Linked DNA regions of Homo sapiens: region 1 is linked to region 2. The links come from fine-mapping of genetic effects on gene expression. A gene starts in region 2. The other region holds a variant in brackets. All regions are shown on one strand. Distances are from middle to middle.

What was found.
Region 1: its variant is fine-mapped to the expression of SLC35F4 in thyroid (GTEx, PIP above 0.99).

What each region holds. Positions count from the first base shown.
Region 1 is chr14:57,828,004-57,840,896 of GRCh38, forward strand. All of the region lies in intron 1 of SLC35F4 (solute carrier family 35 member F4), which reads right to left. It also overlaps the pseudogene RN7SKP99. Among named protein-coding and RNA genes, the nearest start is that of SLC35F4, 32 kb to the right of the region's middle. The variant C/T (reference allele first, on the strand shown) is at 6,108.
Region 2 is chr14:57,860,856-57,873,748 of GRCh38, forward strand. SLC35F4 (solute carrier family 35 member F4) reads right to left here and starts at 5,237. Exons shown (of 8, transcript NM_001306087.2): 1 at 4,868-5,237. The coding sequence starts at 4,970.

The DNA.
Region 1 (12,893 bases), 33 kb before region 2:
TCTAAGTTTCTTCTCATATAATTTCCATTAAAGGGACCTGCAGATGTAATTACTGAGTAAGGCAAAAATTAATATAGCTGCTCACCAACAAGCATGCACTTTGCAATAAGCTCCAGTTGAGATCACAGGAACCCATGAGATCAGTGGTCCTCAACTTCAGATGCACGTTTGAATCTTGGGAGAGCTTTATTTAAACAAAAAAACCACACCCATGCCCCAGATCCAATGCCAGAGATCTCCATTTGATTGGTCTGGGAAAGCGATGAGGATCTTTTTTAAAGCTCCACATGATGAAAATGTTCTCTCAGGACTGAAACCACCACATCAGAAAAAGCTATGAGCATAGTCAGCATTGCAAGGAATTCTAACACTAACAGAAAGAGAGTATTATAAATAATAATAATTGGTAATTCAATAGACACACTGGGCCAAATTCTCATGTGATAGAAAAATTCAGGGTGGGAATTTAAAAATTCAGGCAATGGGTATATTTTAATTTTAAAAAGATGAAAAGATCACTTTTCTATGGTAGTAGAATTTCTTCACACACATCTCTCCAGAATCCTTTCAAATTAATTTGCTTTTTAAATTTAATGTAAACAGCCTGTGCTCTCTGCCAAATTCTTAAATATGTGCAAGAAGTCCATTGTGTCACAGAATGTCACCAACACCACTCCTGGTCTCAGTGGCCAGCTCATTCCACACGTGGCTGGTGATCCAGGATAGGAGTTGGACTGTTCTTTCAGAAAACAGCAAACTCTGGGCAACCCGAGGTCTGCCATGGGGTGAAGGATTCAGCAATTCTGCCTTAGAAATAAAGGTGAGCAGAGCTCCACAAGGGTATTTTGAAAATGGAATAATATTATGCAACAACAATAATAATTTCTCCATAGCCCAAGCTCACCCACGGGACACTTTTTAGCCATGTTACACAACTCATTGCTTTTAAACAGCCATGCTCACTATGCCTCCTTTTAAATGCCCTTGGAGTTAGATTTCTGGGCATTCACTATGCACATGCTTATTAGGTTCTGCAATAGGTACAAAATATAATATTTGGGCCTGCCTTTAATTGCAGTTTTATTGAATCAGGGATGTTCACACAAAGGTTCTGACATCCAAGCACCAAATGAGCTACACAGACAAATGATGTTAGAGGCATTCAGAACAGGACCACCAGGGGCAGAAGTCATTAAATGAAAATTAAACCAGATCTTGAAATGTAGTTAGGATTTCAGTAGAAGAAGATAACCAGGCAGCTGGGATCACTGTGAGCAGAAGCGCTCTGGCAGGAGAGAGAATGCCTATAGGTCTGGGTCGTGGGGGAAGGGAACTATGCAGAGATGTAGTTCAAAGCTGGAGCAGCTCCCTGTGGAAGTGACTCTCAAACAGGTGCCCTGCTGTCATACTTTATTAATGAGAAAAACATAGTTTGCTACCACTGAGGAAAGCTATTGTTCCCTCAGTGACAGAATACAAGCTGAAAGAGTTGTACAAAGCAGGTCTAAAACGCTGTGACCAAGAGGGCAGGCCAAGTCTGCAGGAAAGATGGTGTCACTCTGGAACCTGAAAGGATGCTTCCTCTGAAGTACACAGGAGAGCACAGCCCTGGCACCAGGCTCAACCTGTGTCACAATGCCGAAGAAAGGCCAAGAAGAATGAAGGTGCCAAGCTGTGGCTCCTTTCCTGGGTGCTGTGAGACCAATCGCTACTGCAACAGGGGTTGTGGGTAGTGATCACTGGCTGGTTGTGTGTGATTCTGAGTCTTTTAATCCCTTCAGGCATGCAGATAAAAATTCCAATATTTCAAAGAAGGCCGTGAATATAAAAAAGAAAAAATTTGAGAATCTCCAGATAGGGGAGTTGAATTGTATTTTATAAGCAATGGGAAATCACTCATGGTTTTTTAACAGGAGAGTGACTTTATGGAAAAAACACAGCAGGAAGAATAATCTTGCAGTTAAATGCAAATTGGAATGAAAAGAGAAGAGAGTGTATAAGCAAGAATAAAACTTATTTCCATTCCTCTACAGTTTTAATTTTGAAGAGTAGAAAAAAGTATATAATTTTTAACTTTACAAAAATATTCCAATACATTGTCTGCTACCTACAAAAAAAAAGTAATGGAAGTAAAATCTAGAAATACTACTCCAAAAGAAAGTGTTTATGTAGCATTATTTCCTCTTCACATATGTTGCCTTTTTTTCAGCTTTGTAACATTTCAACTGTGTGGTTTTGGTCAAATTGATCAATCTCTGTAATCCTTGGTTTCGTGATCTGTAAAACGGAGAAAATGTGGTGTAATGCCACCTCATTGAGTCACTGTGAGGATTAAATGAAATAATGTATGTTAACTACCACTTCCTTTATAATATCCGAGGAGATTTTTATTTGGATCTCCCTAGCTTCGGACAAGAGAAATACTTCTTACAGTCTAAGAGTAACTTAGAATATGCCCCAAATATGAAGTTACAACCCAATTTTATGTTATGCTATGGAAATCCTAAAAGATATTTCTTAGAAAACCTGAAGTCTAGCATGAGAAAGATTGAAAATTTAAAGAGCAAAGTGATTGGAAACTCACTTATGAAGCCTATAACTTAAAATCTCATAATTAAATGAGCCAATATGGTTCTGGATGGCTCTGCTCAGATCTCAGTTTCAGACCACCTACCTTCAATGGGAAAATGGTATATGCCTGATATATTCTGTAAAATACCAACTTTATCTATGAGGAGGGAAGCTGTCACTGGTTACAAAAACAGACCATGGCTGGAGGTGTTGCAAGACAAAGAATCACACACTCTTTTTACACTTTCTCTGTGACCCCAAAATCAAAAACCCAGAGCCAATTTATCAGAAATTCACCCTAACTGAACACAGTGCCCATTTCTGCACAGACTACCTGTGGAGCAAGTTCAACAGCACTTGTATAGAGAACACCAGCACTTATTTGAAGCACTGGGGGTGCAAAAATGAAATAGAATGCATCCCTGCTCTTGAATGCTGGTGGGACATGGTATGCATGCTCTGTCAGAATTTATCATCTTCTCTCTCAACTCTGATTTCTTCACTGTGTTCCCATTTCTGTTTCTACACCATTACTCTGCACCAATCACTCAGGCCAGCAGAGCAGGGAGGTGATTTTCGATTCCTCCCATTCCTTTCCTGACTTCTTACAGATGCCAAGTTCTACCATTCTCCTTCCACAGTATCTCTAATATCTTTCTCTCCCTGCCATGTGAGAATATAGTGAGAAGGCAGCCTCTGCAAGCCGGAAAGAGGGCCCTCACTAGACACAGAGTTTGTTGGCACCTTGATCTTAGACTTCCCAGCCTCCAGAACTGTGAGAAATAAATGTCAATGTTTAAGCCACAGAATCTTTGGTATTTTGTGATAGCAGCCCAAGCTGACCAAGACAGTGATAGACGCAGGCATACAGCATAGCCTCCCAGGACAGAGGAGGGTGGAGAAGGGCCAAGCGTGAATCTGGAGGGACAAACTAAAGCCACCCAGTACAGACAGCTCTTAAGAGATAAGCAGAATTTGCAGTACAGCAGCAATCTATGTTTCACAAACTGCCACAGTAAATAATCTATCCTGTGTTATTGTTTTCTGTGGAATTCTCAAGCAGCAAGAGGGAATATTACCATGTAATCATTTCCCTTTATTTCAGTAATTTAAAGAGTGAAAACCTTGGAGCTTTTTTCTCCTTGAGAGACCAGAGCATATTTGTGGGTCCAATAACACCTTTGCAAAACAGAAGAAACATTAACTTTATCTTTATATTATCCAGGCAGAAGAATGCATTCTAATAAGCAATGAAGTGAAAAACCCTACTGTGATTGAATTTATTTTTCCATAGAAATGCAGGAAATAGTCATGAATGTTTTACTAAAATGCTTCCTAATCATAAGTGTATATCCGTGTCTTCACAAGTCATGTTTTTGAGCACTGCAACTCTCCAAGCCAGCAAAGAACTCTGTAAAATTGTCTTTAATCCCTCACAAATGACTCAGGAGTCCCACTGAGGCTTTATCACGTATTATTTAATAAATTCATGAATCTACAAACCAGAAGATGTGGAAAAACCATAGCAACCAGGAGCAAGATTGGAGAAGTTGGCCAGGGTTGAAGGACGCTAGGAGGCACATACAGCCTTCCTGAGCTCTGAAGCCCCTCCCTCCCGGCCCACCCCACATCACTTGACGTTGCCTTAGCCACACCTCTGCCTTCCGCAGACTCAGTACAGGAACTTGCAGCAGAATGGGCTTCAAGAGTTTAACTGCTCTAGTCACCTGCCTTCAGATAAATTATTAACACTTTATACATGAGGAAAATAAGACCCTAAGACTTTAAGTAGCTTGTCCAAAGTCACAGATTAATACATAGAAGAAGAATATGTAGGATGAACAAGCCTAGAATCTCATGTATGACATGAGGACTATAGTTAAGAAAATTATATTGTATTTTTGTTAATAAATAAATTTTAGCTTTTCTTGTTACAAAAAGAAGTAACTATGTGAGATGATAGACATGTTAATTTGCTTTATGACAGGACTATTTTACTATCTATATGTATCCCATAACATTGTGTTGTAAACCTCAAATATATACAATACAATTTATTAGAAACAATAAACAGAGAATGATAACTAAAGTCCTGATCTTCCTAGCACAATACTTTTACCAACTCCAATTTTTGCATGTTCTGGCTCTACAAATGAGATGAGGGAAAAGAGAACACAAATTCCCTATACATTTCTGATGCAGTAAACATAGCAATTGAAAATAGAATGCTGGAACTGTAATTCATGTGTAAAATTACACTCACTGATAAAAAATTTTTTCACATTACAGTAAATTTGCCCTTGAGAAAACGTGGTGAAATATTTCAGGTATTATTTTCTGTCAGCCTAGCCAACACGACCCAGGGTACTTTTATTCTTTCCAAGTCCTCATAATTGCTAGAGAATTTGTTCATTTCTTTAATGATAAATATTGTAGGAACACGAGAGCAGGTGTCCCTGAAATAACATTAATTAGGCAAACTAAAATCACATATGCATAAAGAACAAGAACAAAAGTTCTCTATTTAGAGCTAGTAAAAGCATGACTGGTATAAAGCTTACTGTCACGTTGTTGTCATTGTCACCATCATCATCCTTGTTATCATCTAATCGCAAGGCAATCTCACTAAAGACAGACAGAATTCTCATATTCTTTCACGGTCCCTAATGAGATTACCTTAACCCTATCCCTAGCTCTGCACATCCTGTGACATTAAATGATGCTTGTAAAGGACCATCTCTGCTAGATAATTTTGGTATTTTCATTCTTTTCTGAAAATCAGTACAGATTACCCAGGCTTTGCACCCCCAGAGGATCTGAGTCAGTGTTTTGGGATAGAGCCCAGCCATCGGTATGTTGTAAAAGCTCCCCAGGTGATTCTGATGAATCAAAACACAGAAGACTGGGCTCTGTCCCAGAATGACTGACTCAGAATCTCTGGGGCTCAAGGCCTGGGAGACATTCACTTCAAAAAACCTCCCCTGGGTGACTCAGATGCATATCAGAGAGTGAGAAATGCTCTCCTCAATTGACAGGCATAAATCTATCCACAACATCAGGAGGATACACCGGAGTTACAACCAATATCAAATGAATATTTGAATACAGACTCCAGCCATGGCCATAGCTAATCTCCCGTTGGCTTTCCAATTTGGATAAATGCTAAATTTGCTCATTAGGGTAGCTGTTGGCATATTTAAATATACCATGGAGACTGCAACTTTAGTGCATCTCTTGCATTTTCATATATTCACAAATCACCTTTATGAAGACTAGCTTCACAGAAAATAATTTTTTAAATGCACGTTAACAAGAACAGAAACCAAGCAACAGCCTCAATTTGAGAAAATGTTTAATTTTACCATAGGAATCTTTTTGTTCCCTCTCTTCACATGTTAAAATAAATCTGAGGCTATTTACAAAACCTTGTGCTGAATTAAGTGAAACACAAATGAAACAACCCTCATTATTAAAAGTCTATAAATTAAAATAATAACAAAGGCTGACCCCAAACTCCACCTAAGATGAGAGCAACC[C/T]GACATTTCAAGAAGAAACACTTTCCCAGAGAACAAGTCATGAAGCATGACATCTTAAAACTCCAGAGTACAAAATGTCAACACCAAAAGGACTGAGTTGGTAAAAATTGAGAAAGAGTGGGTACTGAGAAGTAAAATCTGTTTCAAACAAAACTAACTCCTGCAAGATTTTGCACTTCACTGAATAACTACAGCACATTGGTGTGTTCATTTTTTTCTTTTTTCTCTACAGATTCATTCCTTCTACTTTGTACAAGCCCTAACAGTAAGCTATAAAAATGTCATAAATTATTACAGTGCAAATAGTGTAAAATCTTATGCTCACAAGGAGGTCCAAAGTGGTAATCATGCATTCCTTAGTTTGAAATACAAAGAAAAACATGCTTTTTGCTTACAAAGTAAAATGATGACAATTGCAAAACATCTCAGTAGAACTGGTACCTAATTTCTGTTGCCAGTGAAGGGAGGGGAGATATTAGGACAGGTGTTAGAAAGGACAATGGTATAACTAAACCGTCATTCACTTAATGGAAGTCCCAGTATGATGAAAGAACAATGTTATTTTTAGATCAAATCCTTCCTATCCAGCATGTCAGTATAAAAATTGCTTCTCAGAGAACCAAAATAGGCCGGGCACAGTGGCTCATGCCTGTAATCCTAACACTTTAGGAGGCCGAGGTAGGCGGATCACCTGAGGTCAGGAGTTCGAGACCAGCATGGCCAGCATGGCCAGCATGGCGAAACCCCATCTCTACTAAAACTACAAAAATTAACTAGGTATGGTGGTGCATGCCTGTAATCTCAGCTACTCAGGAGGCTGAGGCAGGAGAATTGCTTGAACCCAGAAGGCAGAGATTGCAGTGGGCCGAGATCGCACCACTGCACTCCAGCCTGGGTAACAGAGGGAGACTCTGTCTCAAAAACAAAACAAAACAAAACAAAAATAACCAAACTAGAATGGTTGAAGTATTAACAGACCAATACAGAAGTTGCTGTTTGCCACAGAAACATGAAAATAGAACCAGTGTTATTCACTGTGCCCATGGGGCAACCCGTGCTTGAAGAAAAGGGCCCCTCCCATCTCCTTCAGATCCTGTAATCATATTGTTCCTCCTCACCAGACACCAACTCATTTGGAAGGATACAGAGTCCAAGTAGGTCCTATAGTATGTCTCCAGTGAGTCCTTGCAGTTCACAAGCTGTGGTGAAGCCACATTAATACAGCTACTTCTCAACAATTGGAAGTCAGATAAAACAGTGGATGGGAAATATAATCAGAAGTCAGTCATAATGGAAAAATTTGCATAAATCAACAGTTTCTAACTCTCCCAACCCCCAAGACTTTCTCAACACTCCTAAAAAGCAACAAATGACTGATTTGCTTTTCACATCCTCTCCCTTCTTTTGCTCTTTCTCATTGTCAGCAGAACAATACGCAAAATGTGACTGACAAGAAAGAGAAAGAGGAGCAAAAGGACTCTATAACATTTCTGTCATGTAATTACTGAGGACTCAAGAGTTGGCTGGAGAGGAATGACCCCTGCCCAGTTTCTGCTGCTAGTAATAATTTGGAGTCCTGGAGGACAGGCCAAACTCAACATGCCTAAAATTTAATTTAGCACTGATCACCCACGAACACCTCTCTCCTTCCAGCCTCGCTAGTCTGTCAAAGTTGCCATGTTAAAACCTAAGTGTTACCCTTGGCTCCTTCTTATTCTGGCATCAAGCCATGTCTAGTCTCCAAATGATTTCAGCTCTTTCAGAGTTCTCAGAATGTTCCTTTCTTTTAATTTCCATTGTTTGGGCTGAGAGTTAAAGAATGCAGGAATTTTCTAAACAACACATTTGGGAAACATTCCAAGAAACAGAACCATCTGCATCAAGATGCAGGTTGTGAGAGGATGGCACACTAGGAACTACCGGTGACCTGGTATTATTGCAATCCAAAGTGGCAAGAAAGGAGGTGAGAAAGGCCTGTAGCAGGAAGGACCTTTGATTTCTCAATGAGAAGCTTGAATGTTTTCCAGCAGCCAGTGTTTTGCAGACTTCAGTAGTTTAACTAATGACTTACCTACATACCACCCATATTATTCTTATTTGCTTAATAGTTTTTCTCTGAACTCACTTATTGTTCCATATTAATCAACTTATTTAACATTGAAATTTTATTTTTTATTTTATTGATTGATTGATTGATTGATTTGAGATGGAGTCTCGCTGTCACCAGGCTGGAGTGCAGTGGCGCGATCTCAGCTCACTGCAACCTCCGACTCCCTGGTTCAAGTGATTCTCCTGCCTCAGCCTCCCGAGTAGCTGGGACTACAGGCATGCGCCATCACATCCAGCTAATTTTTGTATTTTTAGTAGAAACGGGGTTTCACCATGTTGACCAAGAGGGTCTCGATCTCCTAAGCTCGTGATCCGCCTGCCTCAGCCTCCCAAAGTGCTGGGATTACAGGTGTGAGCCACTGCGCCGGCCTGAAATTTTATTTTAACTCAAACATTTCCTTATGAAAACTTTGAAATATACACAATAGAGACAATAGTATAATTAATCTACATGTACTCAGCACAGCAAATATCAGCCCATGACCAATCTTGTTTCCTTTGTACTCCCCTAAGCACCACCGCTACCTCCACCTCCATCAGCACACACACAAGCACACCCTTCCTGAATTACTTTAAGCAGATCACAGACATTATATCTTTCCATCTATATATAATTTGTATCTGTAAAGGATAATGACTATAACGCCATCATCACACCTAAAAAAATTAATAACAATTCCTAAATATCATCTTACATCCAGAACATTAAAATTTTACATCACTGTCATATATTAAAAACTGAAATAATTTGCCACAAATTTTTAAAAGAAAATGTTATTAACATTATGGCATGATATGCTTGTAATTGGAACACTTAGCTTGAAGGCTCTTCTCCTTACTAAAAACTGAGATTAGAAAATGTTACACTGGTCTTCCACTTATACATCCTCATTGTCAGAAGGAGAAGGATTGAAAGGGAACTTAAAATGAAATAAATTTTTCACTGTGTAATTTAAAATTATTTAACACCATGTCTGAGTACCACCTAAATCTTGCATTTAACCAGGAATATCTGTCCCACACTTCAAGAGACACTGTTACAGGGAATCATCAAAGAATTTAGGGCTTGATGGAATTCCTAATTGCGAAGAATTTTTCTAGCAGCGAAAAGAGCAGAAGGGAGGTATGATGGAGAAACGGACAACCTGTATGTCCCACAACTTACTGAGCCACTTTCAAATTTCTTGAAAGTTTGTTTGGCTCAAATACTGTAGTTCTCCTAGTGCTCCAATAGGGGAGCATACAGACTCGCATGCCTTTGACCAAGGGTAGACCTCCTCCAATTGGAAAGACCACTTGCTTTGACCAATCTCACAGCTTCTGGGATAGGGACCACACGTGCGTATAGGAGAGGAAGGGGACTTAACCTAGCCAACCCGGCTGAATAGAACCTTGCTATCAATGAGGTGACTGATGTCACATCCTGATGACCGTCACATATCATACCATCATTTCTTGAACCATCACTGTCACCCAAGATACCCCCCACTTCTCCAAAGCCAATCTTCCCTAGAAAGGGGCTTTTGTGCCAGGTTCTAGAGCGTCCTTCCTCATAAGCACTCTTTTCTGTGAATAAATTACCAATTCTTCAAGAAATGCCAAAATAAGACATTTTTCAGAATACTGCTCACCTCCCCTTCCCCAATACACATACATTCAAATATCTTCCATGGCTCCCCTTTCATACAGGGAAAGCACCACATTTTTGACATGCTTTTCCGTTTTATGGTTACCATCTTTTTGCCATATCTTGTATCTACAACTTGAATATGAGTCCCGTGCTTTTACACTGATTCAGTGGTTAATCAGTTCTTCCTATAGGTAAAGTACTATGCTTAATGCCGGTGATACTAAGATGACCAAGACAAAATTAATGTCCTTAGCAACACAGAGGCCAGTGGAGAAATAAATGAATAAACAAAGAGATACAAAGCAATGTTTCATAATAAAGGTTCTATGAGCTCAGGTGGAAAAAGAACCCACTCTTCCTGGGCAGGTTTTGGAAAAGCGAGGAGAACAGAGGTGAGGCTTCAAGAGCAAATGGGAGATCCCCAAGAAGGCAAACAGGAAAGAAGGAGAATATATCCTACTTCTCAAAACCTAAGAATTCCCAAATCATAGCTTGTTCCCTAAACATTCTATGTGCTCAAACTATCTTCTAGTCAGGGGCCAGCAATACGTATGTCTGAGTTTCAACAAAAACTTTGTGATCAAAAACCTGTGAAGGAAAAAGGAGTCAAAAAAATATATACAGTCAAATCATTTTTTCCCAAATCAACACATCTTTACTGAGCTTTGCTACATGAAATATAATTTAGTACTGTCTCTGCCTTTGAGGTCCAATGTTTGTTTAAATACAGTCTAGCTGAGGAGCTATATATATAAAAGCAAGGAAAGCTCAACAACAATAAGAGACATGACAGTTCAGTCTCAAAATAGGAAAAAAGATACAAGTAGCACGTGATCAAGTGCCAAATAGCCCATGATCAAGTACCAACATAAATGCAACTATAAGAACTTTTTTTTAAGAATGATCACTTTACATTGTGGGCCAGGGAGATTATAGGTGTATATAGAGAGGTAAAGAATATTTGTAAAGCAAAAGGCAGGAAAATACAGGATTATTTCAAGGATTAGTAAATCAGTCCATATGGCTGGAATAGAGAATTCACATGAGAATGGCATGAATAAAAAATAGGTAGGGACCATATTTGAGGATGCCATATGTACATACACAAAAAAACAGTAACCACTTGTTGAGCTCATATTGCCATACCGGTACCCATATGTCATATAAATTAATTCTCAGATAAGGACACAGGGGTCTTAAGGTTAAGTCATTTAATGTCAGTCTAGGGATACCTACATGCAAAAGACAGATGTGGCCCCTGACCTCTGGGGCTTAAAATCTAGTATCCACAGAGTAGGAAAGTGAATTAGCTGAATTCAAACTCTGGATTCCAAAGCCCAGGTTCATTATTCACCAATATTTCTCTGTTCCTGTTCAGCACCAAGATAGGTCAAATATTAGAAAACTCCACTCCTTCTTCACTTCTTATCCTTCGGTTGCTCTTTATGTAATATTGATGGCAGTGATTCTTGACCCGGCCTGCATCAGAATCACCTGTGGAGCTTTTTAAAAATGTGCACACATATACACACTATGGAATACTATGCAGCTGTAAAAAGGAATGAGATCATGACCTTTGCAGAGACATAGATGGAGCTGGAAGCTGTTATCCTCAGCAAACTAACACAGGAACACAAAACCAAACACTGAATGTTCTCGTTTGTAAGTAGGAGCTGTATGATGAGAACATAAGGACACATGAGGGGCAGCGGGGAGTGGGGAGGAAAAACACACACTGGGGCCTTTTCAGGGAGGCGGGGAGAGAGGGAGAGCATCAGAAAGAATAGCTAATGGGGGCTAGGCTTAATACCTAGGTGATGGGTGGATCGGTGCAGCAAACCACCATGGCACATGTTTACCTATGTAACAAACCTGCACACCCTGCCCATGTAACCCTGAACTTTAAAAAAAAAGTTGCAGAAAAAAATGTACATGCTCAGGACACAGCTCCAGGGACCTGAATTGGAGCCCAGGCATCTGTATTTTTTAAATATTCCACAGGAGATCCTGATGCAGAGCCAGAGTTAAGAACTTTATCAACACTCTACAGCATGTCCAAAACACGCCCCAGACTTCTTACCTAAGACCTAAACAAAACATGCACACTTCATTCTAGTCTTCTACAAGCAATCCAGATGAGTGATCTAATAATGACACTAATAATAATAACATTCATACATTTTATTGAGTGCCTACTCTGTCCCCAGGCACCGTGCTTAATGTTTTTTACACATATTTTCTGTTTTAATTCTCGCAAAATCCAAGGAGGAGAGAACTTTTAATATTCATATTTCCAAAGTCATAAAGCTAGATACAAGAGCTGGAATTCAAACTCAAGAGTACATTGATTCAAAATAAATGCTTTTCACAGCCACTTCACTACACTGCCATCCAAAACAAAGGATAACCATTAATTCTCTGAATATTTGAGTGCCACCTAATGCCAGGCATTGTGCCCTCAGTCACAAATAGCATAAACTAATACTCACAGACTTTAAAGTAATGGCATATTGACTTGAGCTCCAATAGATTAAATTTGTCATAGAGACTATACCAAGTAGCTGAAAATAGAATGAACAACAAGCTTTGTTACCCAGCAACTTAATAAGATAAAGATTTCACTATCAGAAAATTAGGTTTTCTGGAGAAGGAAAAAAGTACAAGCTATACTTGTGGAAACACTTAAATGAGACTTCTAGGAAACGGGCTTTGACATTGATTCCCATGGGTGTAGGCTCTCAAAATCTGAGTACCTCTCATCCTCGTTCATTTTAAAGAGCTAAAGGTTAACCATCAGACCACCTCATTATTAATTTCAAAACAGAAACCTTATCACTCATGATTGAAGACCACCTAATTAATTTTTGGTGTCAATATTTCTCAATACACTGCTATATAACACCCAAATATCCCCCCCAAATAATGAATGTTTTTAAAAGAGCAAATCACATGTTCCTTTCTTACGTATACATTTTAAGCCATGGTTATTAATGTTTTGAGGTCCATGAGTACCACTGAAAATCTGAAGAACCTTATGAAGCACCTCA
Region 2 (12,893 bases):
TTTCCTCTTCTCTGCTTACCAGGTTTAATTTCCATGATCAATCATTTTATTAATACAACTCTTTTGTATACAACTCCGTTGTCCCTATTTTTTAATACCCATTGGATAATCTGTAACTCTGGTTATATCCTTATCTCTACTTGTTCTATGCCTTTACTGTGTTAATGAATGAGCCAACCTACTGGCTGGTCTTACTTTAAATTTGTGACCAAAAACTTTAAACGGACCCTTAAGGCTGCCAGACAACCTGAGCGCACTTCCCCAGTCCATTCACTCTCCCTATTTGTTTTAACTATTCATACCTTCTCTATCCTCCAGCCTCTACCATGTCCTCCACCATCCTCACTCTCATTTGGTGATCTCTCTTTCTACTTGGAGAAGACTGCAGCAACCAGAAGAGAACCTCAACAGACTCCCACCATCTCAGTTATACACTTTCCCAAACGGGCCCCACACACCTTACCCTATATCCATGTTCCTATCTAAGGCAATGTCCCTTCTCTTGTGTACTAGTTTCCATACACTATCTCTCCAACTTCATTAATTTTTCTTTCTCTATTGAATCATTCTCATTTGCATGCAGACTTGCTCTTATTTCTCCAATCTTTAAAGAAAGAAAAACTTTCTTGAGCCTGCTTCCTCCATTTCTTCTGCTCCCCTTTGCACAAAAATCCTTGCAGAGTCATCTATACTCACAGTTTCCAATTCTTCCCTCTAATTCTCTCTTATACACATTCTAATCCATTTTATCTATCCTTATGTGCTCTTGTCAACATTCTTGTCAAGATCACCCATGACCTTTAATTGTCAAATTCAATCGGTCTTCTTTTTACTTGACCTTTCAATAGCATTGGACTCAGCTAAACTCTTCCCCTTCAAACTCTTTATTTACTGGCTTCCAGGGTAACACATGTTCCTGGTTTTCCTCCTATCTCCCTGGATGCTCCTTCTTGATCTCCTTTGATGGTTTTCTTCTTCTCCTGAACCTCTTAATGTCAGAATGTCTCAAAATTCAATTCTTCTGCCTCTTCTCTTCTCTATATGCATTCATTCCTTGGAGGTCTCATCCAGTCTTAGGCCTTAAATACCACCCAAGTACTGGCAAATCCTTAATTTATATCTCCAATCAGACATCTACTCTGAACTCTAAGCTTACTCTACATCTCCAATTACATTTAGTATCTCTAAAACGTTATCCTTATCCCCTGACAATCCACCCCCCACCCCTTTCCAAAGTTTCTCTACCTTGAAACCTTCCACACTTCAGCTGATGGCAACTCAAACTTAGTCAAACCAGAAAAGATGCAGTCATTTTTTACTCCTATCTTTCTTACAGATACCATATCCAATCTATCAGGGTACCCTATTGGCTCTAATTTCAAATATATGCAGACTCTGACCACCTTTCTCTTCTTCTAGTGCTACAACTCTGGTTCAAGCCACCATCATGTCTCACCTACGTTATCACAATAACATACTAATTAGGTGTTTTCACCCTGTCCCAGTACAGCAGTGAGACTGATCTTTGTGTAAGATAAGTCACATCACTCTTCTCCCAAAACTCTTCAAATGCTCATTTCATTCAGAATACAAGCCAAAGGATTGACAATGACCTCTAAGGCCCTCCTTTATCTGCACTCCTGGATCCTCAGTGACCTCATCTCCAACCACTTTCCCAATTGTTCACTCCACTTCAGCCATACAGGCCTCCCTGCTGTTTCTCCAGCATGCTAGTTGTACTCTACCTCAGATCTTTGCGCTAGCTATTCCCACTGCCCAGAATGTGTTCTTCTGGATGTCCATATGGCTAACTCCCTCATATCCTTCAGGTCTTTGCTGAATTGTTACTTCCTCAGTGAGGACTTCCCTGATGAGCCTATTTAAAATTGTGATAATTTCTACCCCCAGAATATTTTATCCTTTTTATCCTGTTGTAATTTTTCAAAAGGCACTTATCACCTTGAAACATACTAAATAATTTATGTACTTGTTTATTTCTTTATTGTCTTGTTTGCTCCCACTAGAACTTAAGTTCTTAAAAGGAAAATACTTTTGTCTGTTTTGCTCATTGGTGTACTCCTGACACATAGGAGGTGCTCAATTAACACTTGTTGAATGAATGAATCTATTCCCTACCTAAGTAACCACACTATGCATTAATCATCTTTTTTAAAAAAAATGTTTAAATAAATATAGAAACAGTGTCTCACTACATTGGTCAAGTTGGTCTTGAACTCCCGGCCTCAAGCAATCCTCCTGCCTTGGCCTCCCAAAGTGCTAGGATTACAGACATGAGCCACTGCACCCACCTTTAATCATCTTTGTATCCAGATTTCTTATTTATATTTACTCAATAACTGTTCATTAATTGAACAGGATAAATAAAACAAATGCCCTATTGCCCATTAAAGTACCTTCATTTATCTGAATTCTATCATGTTTCTTTTTTTGCATCAGCCTGACTACTAGAATTTTTTCTGAACAAGGTACAAGCAAACAGCAGGATGCATTAACAGAAGGCTTGATCTTCAGTGCATTTTCTTAGAGGTAAGTCCCCGTCTATCTCCAAAAAGGTAAATGGCATAGATATCTAGAGATTGTCCTTCATATGTGATCAGACAGGAAATGAGAAAGTCACCTTGCTTTCACATATTATATATTCATCACTGTAGCCTTTTCTTAAGTATATTTTTCCAGACTTCCCCTAAGCTGTTGCTCATTCCCTGTAACAGCCAAATCAATTGACCATATTGTACTGGTTTGCTTCAGTGTGTTTGTTTACTAGTTGAAGCCTGCATTAGGACAGGATTATTTCATGGTGCTCGGTTCCCTGGCCCTCCTCCAGCTTTCTCCTCTCTCAATCTCTCACTGTGCAAAATAGCAATCTTTCTCTACTTCCGAAAGCATGAGCATCCTGAGATTTATCTGACTATCACTTAATTCTCTCTTCTTGTGAGATTCTCTGCCTTCACTCTTTTAACTCTACGGTCTGAACTTAGGTAGGTAAGTGCCCATCACAAATAACCATGCCAAGTTAATCTTTATCCCTTTTGGCTACCAGTTATAGCCTTGGCCAGTGCTCTTCCCTTTTTTTGTCCTGTTATTGTGTTGCAAATGAAGCATGTGCAGCTATTTGAGCAAGTACAAAAATATAATATGAACATGTTCTTATCTAAAATGTCACTTTTTCAGTATTCTTTTTGGGTTGTTCATTGTTAGCCAAAGTTCCATTGTCATAAAAATTACAATAATAAACCACCCTGAGTCTTGTAATTTCACACACAGCTTCTACATTCTCTAAGCCACTAAAATCCCATGGTTCCTAATTAAAATATTCAAAGGTGAAAGTCAAGTAATTTCCACAAGATATATTAGTTCCTTTACTTATGTTTCCAGGGTTAAAAAAGAAATCCTTTGCCAATAAAAAAGGAGAAGTTTTTGAGTGTATAGTACTTCAAAGGGCATTCCACAGTGTGTTATTTTCTTTCCAGAAAATTCTAACACTATATAATTACTTTTGTATGGAAAATGAATAATTTAAGCCCCTAATGCTAAAAACAGCTAGACAGAAACCATCCAAATCAGATAGGCCTTTCCTGAAACCAGATGAAATATCGAACTAGAAAATATCTGTGTGAGAACAGCCCATGGAACAAAGCTCTTGAATTATTATTCAATAGAGAGGAAGCATGGTAGGGGAGAAAGTTACATGAAAAAATAGTGTTTTCTTGTCTTTGTGCCGGAATTTTTGTGGGTCCCACGCATCACAGAAACTGTAATGTTGATTGCACCCCAAATGTCATAGAAAAATACGTATCAGAAATGCATCTAGGAGCTTCCAAGCTTCTGACAACAATAACGGCAAAAACATCAATTAAGCTTCATCTGTTGCAACAGAAATGCATTGATAAAGAAAAAAGCGAAAGCCCACCTGCATAGAAACTAAACCGCAGCTACTCCTCCAATTCGAAGAAAAATGAGCTGCACTTCAGTCGCCAGTAGAACTAATCCCAGCAAATATAGCTAGTGGGTTTGTGTACTGGGGGAGGGGGACTGCGAGCAGAGCACACCTCATCGCCCTCCCACCAAAACTGGTCCAAAAACGTGAAAGCATCCACGCCGCATGACCTCGCTTAGCTGGAAGAAAGCGGTGACCGCGACGTGCGGCGGGGGCGGGTGGCCCTGTCGCCTCCCCTTCTCAGACCCCCCCCCCCCACGCCCCCAGTCTTTTGCACGGGTCTCTGGCTCCAAGCTCTGGGGCTCGGAGACCTGAGCAGGTTCTTTTCTCTTCCCAGGGTGAAGAACCTCCTAAAGATACTGTAACCGGAGTAACTCCCGCGCTGGCAGCGTCTCAACAGCCCGGAGTGAACGAGCTGACCCCACCAGCGCCGGGACCCACGTCTGGGTCGGCCGCCCCCGCCAGCCCCACCCCCGAGCCTCCCCAGCCTGCGTCCCCAGCGCCCCGCACGCAGTAGGGGCTTTCGGGGCATGTATCCCCTAGGGCTGACTTTCCGCTAAGTGAACAGCCATGTTAGCCTCCTCCGGGCGTAAATCCACCAGGGTGAGCCGGCCAACGGCGGTCAGGAGCGCTCACCAGGTCCCCTCCGCACCTCCCCCCAAGGCTACGACTGTTTCCAAACTCCTGGGCGCACCCAGCCGGGCCCCTTGCCCTCTCACGGTTCAGCACCGAGGACAGCGGACATACTTTTCTCCCCGGGGGGTCCCCGCCGCCAGGAAGGCGGTGTTGACAGCGTCCGCAGGGCTGCAGGTGTCCGTACCGCGCGCCCGCCCGTCCGCATCCCCGCGGCACCCCTGCGCGCCCACCTCCCTTCCCCGCCTCGCGCAGGGCAGCCGCGCGGCGTCTTACTTTTCTGGCTGGAGTAACCTGGATAATAGCCATAGTAGCCGGTGATCCGCAGGATCCGGTCCTCGATAGTGGCCACCCCGTTGGGGGCCGCCTTGACATCCATAGAGAGCGCGGGGCGACGGCCCCGAGTGCGGCGGGGCGGAGAGCGCAGCGCGGGGCCCGGGAGCTGGTGCAGGTGCCGGAGCCGCTGGTGCTGATCTTGCAGCTCCTGCTCCCGCGCCCGGGCTCTGACTCCACCGCCCGGCGCAGCACCGGCTCCGCATCACAGCGGCGGCGGCGGCGGCGGCGGCGGAGCGGCCCCCACTCGGGCCGGCCTCTCCGTCAGCCTGGCAGCTCTCCCGCGCGCCACCCGGAGCACTGCTGCCCGAATAGCGCCCCCTCACCTCCGACGCCCACCGTGGCCGGGGGCGGGTGTGGGCGCCCCACCTGGTCGCCAGCTTTCATCATTAACCCTTGCGCGATCCTTCCCGAAAACTAGACACCCCAACCCCACCTGATGAAAGGGATGTTTGGTCAGTGGGGCGCGAGAGGAGAAGGCGACGGTGGCCAGGGGCTCAGAGAAGGGTGTTGGGAGTGGGAGAAACCCAAGAGGGACTCATAGCTGTTAATGCGAGGCATTAACTCTGTCGCTCGGGGAGAAGACACTTCTGGGGCGCCCCGGGACTCGGTCCACGCTTGGCGTCTACACCACCTCTGGTCTGCTGATATGCAAGCATTCCCCCGCGTTAGTCAGTCCTTGCAACTTGTCTAGAAGACTGGGAATCTTTTTTTATGAAATGACAAGAAAATTAGTTCCCGGCAGGTGGTATATGGAGTGATTATCCAGGTTTTGCAGACGCAAAGACTGTAAGTGTTCAAGCGCTCAAGTCTGACTGTCCATACGGACCCTCCATCCTGCCACTGAAAAATGTCAAAGGCTTAGAAGATTCAGCTGCACACAGCACGTTTATTTTTCCAATTTCAAATGCTCTGAGGAGAAATGATTTTCTCCTTTATTGCCAAAAATATCAGGAGGGAAGTCCTTCAAACTGTAAATATCTGGACGAGTGAAAGTCTTAGCTACAGTCTAGAGCCTTTCCATTAGAGCAGAACATCCTTGAAGCTGTGTGTTCAGAGCGAACACCCTCCCCTCAGGTGTGGGACTCTTCTGCTTTAGCCAGAGACCCAATGGGTTAGGGTCAGTGAGCAGTGGAGACGATTCCTCTGTTCATAGTCTGCAGACACAGCTTCCTGCAAATAATAATAATAATAATAATAATAATAATAATAATAATAATAATTTTCAAAGTTTCATCTCAGAAATGAAAAGGTGGAGGTGGAGGGTTAGTGGAGGGGAGGGTCAGCTCATCAGCTTAGAGGCAATTTAGGTCCACCTTCCGTGCAGAGCTGGCTTAAGACATCCCTGCCAGGTTTCATATTACTAAAGCTTAGGGAGAAGAAAAAAAGAGAAACAAAAGTCGACTTCAATGCCCCTCTCAGAAACCTCCAGAGAACCTATCACACCATCCTGCCTCCAAGCATTTTCCACATTGTGTGTGGGCCCTTAAGAAGGAAGAAATATGCAAATTTTTTTTCTAAAAGGTAAATTAGGTTTAAGCATATGAAAACGCAATATTAAATTTTACAATATGTTTTGGGTTTTCATCCAAACACAAAGCTTAGCACGGGATCTTGAGAGTGGAGTCAATCTGAGATTATTGTGGCTGGAAGGAGAGTTCATAAAGAAACCAATTTCCTCCTACACCTGTTTTCTGGGCTAGGAAAGATGGAAGGGTGGAAAGAGCTAAAAGGTCAAAAGGAACTAAAAGGAAAAACCAACACTAGTGCAGTGATGGGGAGCTAGCCATATAAAGCAAAAATGAAAGCGTTATGCCTTTACACCCCCCCCCACGTGAAATAATATTCAGCACACTTTTGTTAGTTTTATTATTTCTGTGGCAAAATTATATCAAATGCATGTATTGCACATGGTAAAATGTGTTCATCACATATAATTTTAAATGTCACTTTTGTTTGAAGTTTCTATGAAAGATAAATTTTCCAATATTACATATATTATATATTTTGATAATAGCCATCATAATCCATAGCACATTAATATATATATCAGTAAGAGAGAAATTAGGAAACAATTCAAGCAAAAACCTTCTGATGTAACAGGAATATATATGTATACACATACATACACACACACATATGCAGACTTAAAAACAAGTGGTTTTTCCCATTGCTTATAACTTATCTTGCCATAATTAATGTACTTAAATTATAAATAACAATTACCGTGTAAGTCATTACCTTCTTCCTGCTTTTGCTTTATTTTCATAAATCTCCATAGAAGTAGATAAAAATGTATTTAACTGGATCTGATCATTCATATAAACAGTAAATTCAGCATAAATTTAAATACTACAATGTAAACATACCCGCAAGAGTCTATGTTTTCTTTTGAAAAAGTAAAAATTTTCAGACTGACCTGGAAATAAATTTTAAAATAGCAAAGCACTTACAAATCTCTCTATAATCATCTGTAATAGGATGACCAAAATAGTAAATGCCAGCAAGTGCTATAATCTAGGCCACACTTTTAATGGAAGGAACTGAAATCCTACAATTATAAATTGATAAACAGTCAAAGGTAAATTTCTGCTAGTCATGAACACTCTTGGCATATATGATAAAAGATGTTTTAATCTTTCAATAGTCATTTTAGACGTTATTAACAATTTACAGAAATTATTTTGAAGAAAGGATAATTTTTTTTTTTTTTTGAGACAAAGTCTCACTCTGTCACCCAGGCTGGAGTGCAATGGTGCAATCTCGGCTCACTGCAACCTCCGCCTCCCGGGTTCAAGTGATTCTCATGCCTCAGCCTCCGGAGTAATTAGGACTACAGGCACCCGACACCACGCCCAGCTAATTTTTTTGTATTTTTAGTAGAGATGGGGTTTCACCATGTTGGCCAGACTGGTCTCGAACTCCTGACCTCAGGTGATTCACCAAAGTGCTGGGACTACAGGCATGAGCCACCGTGCCCGGCGGAAGGAAGGATAACTTTTAAAGCATTTTTATGTTTGCATGTTTAGTCTACCAGTTTTCACAAACCCAAATATTCAAATTTACAAACTATGAGTTGCAATGTATGCCTCAAATCTATTCTGAAAGAATAAAGAAAAGACACAACTTAATAAATGAAGATTGAAGGTCATTATTTGATTCATAAAATAGTTTATCATGATAGCCCTTCACATAGCCAGTTTCTCTAGTAGTTGTAAATTATAATTCGATTTGTTATAAAACAAAATTTGTTTTTTGTGCGCTCTTCAGGAATTTTTTAATGCATCAAGCAGAGGGTATCTATCTGTGATCCCAGATGAGTTTTGATATATGAGCCATATGGATTTTGATCATCTGATCAAATCAGATTAGCTATTTATACTAATTGAGTATACAATTAGGTATTCACGTGTTGTGGTTTTTTTTTTTTTTAAAAAAAGCCAAATCATTTGTAAAGTAGTTCATGGGATGATCACTTACAGTCCTTGTGTCTGATGCTAGAATAGCTATACCAAGTAATAACATTAAAACTAAATATGATCACTGGGTATAAATTTTATTCAAAGATAAGCAGTCTGAAAATACCATATCAGTCTATACACTTTGGAAGGGTTAGTAAAATAAAATCCATGGAATCTAGTCTTCTGTACTTTAATTAGCAGAAAGGGATCAGAAAATCTGGGCTTTAGTCGTCTTTTTATGGCAGGAATAAGACACCTAATCTTTCTATTCACCTATTTGAAGTTACCACTGAAAGATGCTGAAAGAAGGGGAAATGATCTTTTTCCCCTCTGGGAAATTAGTATATTTTACCTATCTCCTTGGGCTAAAAGTAACTTGGCTGCTTGGAAAGCCAAGAATCTTTAAGCTTTTATAGTCAAGGGCCAATGTTACTTTGTACAAACACCAGCACTGTTTACAAAGAGTTGACCCCAAGAAATTTAAACAGTGTTAGTGTTTAAAAGCATCTGGCTTCTAGCCAACCAGGTGATAAGAAATGGCACCTGAGAAAGAAAAAGCATGCTCTTAATATTCCATTTTCAGGGAAGTTGTTTTGAGTATTTAACTGCCAAGTCATCAGCCACCCCATTTGGAATGCTGACACAGCCTTTCTGTTTCAATAGTAGGCAATGGCAGACATTGCTAATTTACCTTTCAGCTCAAAGGGGCTGGGTGTCTGTATGAGAAGACAGGGCAGAGTCCACTCTTCATTGGCCTCAGGTGCCAGGCTGCATCCCAGGACTAATTTTGAGGCTCAACTCTTTGGAAAGGCACTGAACCTCTTTGGAGAAAGTCTTAAGTAATTTCAACATATATATTCAAATTTTAGAATTTGTCTATGATCTGTGTGTGTGTGTGTGTGTGTGTGTGTGTGTGTCTGTGTCTCTCCCTGTGTCTCCCTCTCTCTCGGTCTGTTTTTCTGTCTTTGTCTCTCTGAGTCTGTGTGTGTCTGTCTATCTCTCTGTATGTTTCTCTCTGTCTCTGTCTTTCTCTTTCTCCTTCTCCCTACAGCATTATACTGTACTCGGCAGTACAGCACAGTGGTTTAAAGCACGGACTTTGGAGCAGACTGCCAGGAGTCATTTCTGACCTCATCATTTTCTAGCTGCGTGACCTTGGGTAAATCTTTTGAAATCTCTATGACTCAATTTTCTCATCTCTAAAATAGAAATATACACCTATATAGTGGAACTATCATGAGAAATAAATGAGTTTATACCCATAAAGATCTTATAACTGTGACTGGCATATAGTAAGCATCATATATATTAGCTATCAGTACTATTTTTATGCAGACATAGAACGCTTTGAGCTTCAGTTTCCTCCTCTGTAAAATGGGCTCATACTCTCTATTTCATAGTATTGCTGTGATGGTTAAGTGAGATCACATATTAAAATATTTTACGAAGGCCTGGCACATCGTGGGTACACAATAAATATTAATTTTCTTCTCCTAGCCCTGCCCCTGCTCTGTCCATTGTTTTTTACTGAAGTTGATTTACACTTTCACTCTCCATTCACACTCTTGGAGCTTCACTGTGGCAATTGCTTTTACAGGTCTCCTTTAATTCTTTCAACCATGGGTAATGATCACGTGAGGCAGACCTTGTGTGCCAATGGAATAAGTGGCTTCAGAAGTTCAGTGCTTTGCAGAAAGAGAAGCTGCTCAAGATCAGCAGCTCTTCTTGTCCTTTAAGGAAGCATGAGCACAGGAAGAGTTTACTTCATACTAGGAAAGGGACCGAGGCTGTTAATCCCCAGGTGTGGGAGGCACTCAGGTCCTGCTTGGTGAAGTGGAGCAGCCTCAGAGGGATCATAGTGTGATGCCCCATGGGAGGCAGGCCCATTAGCCATTAGGCTTCCCAGCTTCAGCAGATATTCTGGTGCCTCCCAGCTTGTCCAGAAGCAGCAGAGTCCCCAGCCCCAGAGGGATCACATGTGGGCTTGACTATTGCACATTTCAGCAGTGCCCAGTGGACTGAAGATCAGACCTCCTTGATGCTGAGCTAAGCCAAAGATCTCCCCTGACTGCATAACTCTGCAGCAGGGGAGCCCCAACAAGACTGAGATTGCATTTCCCACTATTTTTATGAGGAATAGGGACTCAGAGTAAGATTTACAGTAATTTAAAGCAAATAAAGATTTTTTTAAACCCTTTTGAACAGCTGTGTTGGTGGTTATACATTCAAACCTGCTACATATTCATTTTACAAATAAGCCTTTCTGTAATTTAAACGTCTAAAAATGCCATGCACACCACAGCCTCAAACCTGCTGCATATTACTTGTCACACAAGCTTTCTGTAACATTAACTGCTAAAAATGCCAACCCTGCTGTGGTAGTCATTGTTACTGTTTGCCAAATAGTCATGGTTCTCCCCCATTTTAGGCATACCACAGGACTGCACTTCCTGCCCCCTTGTGGTTGTAGTGGGGCTGTGTGACTAATTCTGGTTGTGAACAAAAAAGCAATTATCATCTCAGTCAGAGCTAATACTAGACACTCAAGGGTTTTCTCTTTTTCCCTCTGGCCCCATGACCATCAGCATTCAGGATGACTCTGATACATACAAAGTAAAGTTACTAAAAACTGTAATTGAAGAGTTTTAATTCCTTCCATAAATACTGCATTTAATTTTCAAGTTCTATTCTCTTCGTCCTTTGTTTTCCAAAGACATACTATGTATGTCTAAGATCACTAGTTCTTGAAGCAATTCATCAACAAATCATAGAGAAGACAAAACAAATTGTTGGAAAGAAACATTATGAGTGGCACAGAGAACCAGAGAGAACACAAAATTTGAAACTCGTTAGAATGCATCCATAAAACACAGACTCCAGAATACACGTTCAATACATCCACATCTTGAATGAGTACTATTGCCAAAAGCAATTTCAGAAATGACTTTGTCTTTAATTTCAAGAACTATTAATCTGCAGGAAATATATTCACAAGGTTTTATTTCATCATTATTTTCAGTATCTGTGATTCCCATCAGTAGAACTTGCTTTTTAAATGCCCTGAAATAATACAGAGGTACCAAAGTGGACATTCATCCTTTTTTTTTTTTAGTACCCAGCTGATGTGAGAGGAGGCTCCTGACAGAAAGAGCATACATTTCAAGAGAGAAGCTAAAAAGATCGCACCAAATAACTTTTATGCTCCAATTCATTTTCTTTTGTCTCACCTTTGCAGTGACCACCCTGTATGGATTGTCATTGATTCACCTAGACACAGCCTGACAGCACCTCACCTCATGCCAATGCTGGGCACCTCTAACCTCCTGCACCAGCATTTCCTTGTTGGTGCTGAGACATGAAAATGCATTTGCTTGGCTCAAGCACGTACAACCTGAAAGTGCAGGGGACAGATGTAACACTGGGCAAACCTGTGACAATGGGAAACAGGAGCTAGGGTATAAATTCTCCATTCCATTCTGAATGGACTTCCCTGAGAAGCTGTCACTTTTGCAGCCTCTTGCCCACAAGATCGTGCAACTAGTCAGACTGCTCAGTCTTCATGCTAAACTATGGTCAGCTCAGTCACATGCCCTCATATGTATACACCAGTACATAAAACCCTGCCTCTGCCTCAGGCTCTCTTTTCTGAAGAGCTCAGGTTAAGATGCCAATTTTCCCAGTCTCCTCACTTGGTCACTGGCACATACCCCTGCTCCACCAATCACAGCATCCATTCCAAATTTTGAATGGGAAGCCAAGTGGAGAAATCCTGGGCCATGTCTGCAATGGATATCAGCAGCTGTAACAGTAGTTGCAGCCACATTTTCCATTGTCCGTTTCAGTGATACGGGCTGTATAAACCTCAAGTTAAATATTTCCATTGTGGAAATTATGGGTTTGATTCTCCCCTGTAATCCATAAATGTATAACAGAACTTCGTATGTCCCCCTGGCTACCCCATAGCATTATCCCACGAAGGGTCAATTGCATTATAGTCTATCTTGCTGGCACCTCTCCAGTTGTGCTGTGAAAAAAACAAAGTCCTCTTCTGAACGCCAAGGGGGAAAAGAGCCTCAAGTAACATTTAAAGTCTCTACTAGTTCCATATTCCTATGCCACCCAGGTATTCATCATAGCATCACTGGTAATAATAAAATAATGTAATCAACTCAAATGTCCCAAAAATAGGAAAATGGTTTAGTAAATCACAATGTATCCATTGGGTAGAATACACTTTAGATATTAAAATTATGGCTATTGCTATGAAGACTACAAAGTGATGAGAAAAATCCTATGTTCTAATATTAAGTGGTGAAAAAAATCAGAATTCTAGATTGTATACGGATGTCTACTACAATTACATATTTTTTAATGCAGGGGGAAAATAGTTAAGATACTCAAAATTCAAAAAATGGTGATAAGAGGAGTGAAATTATAAGTAATCTTCCATTTTCCAAGTGTTCTGAAATATAATTTGCTAATATTAAAGTGAATACAAACACACACAC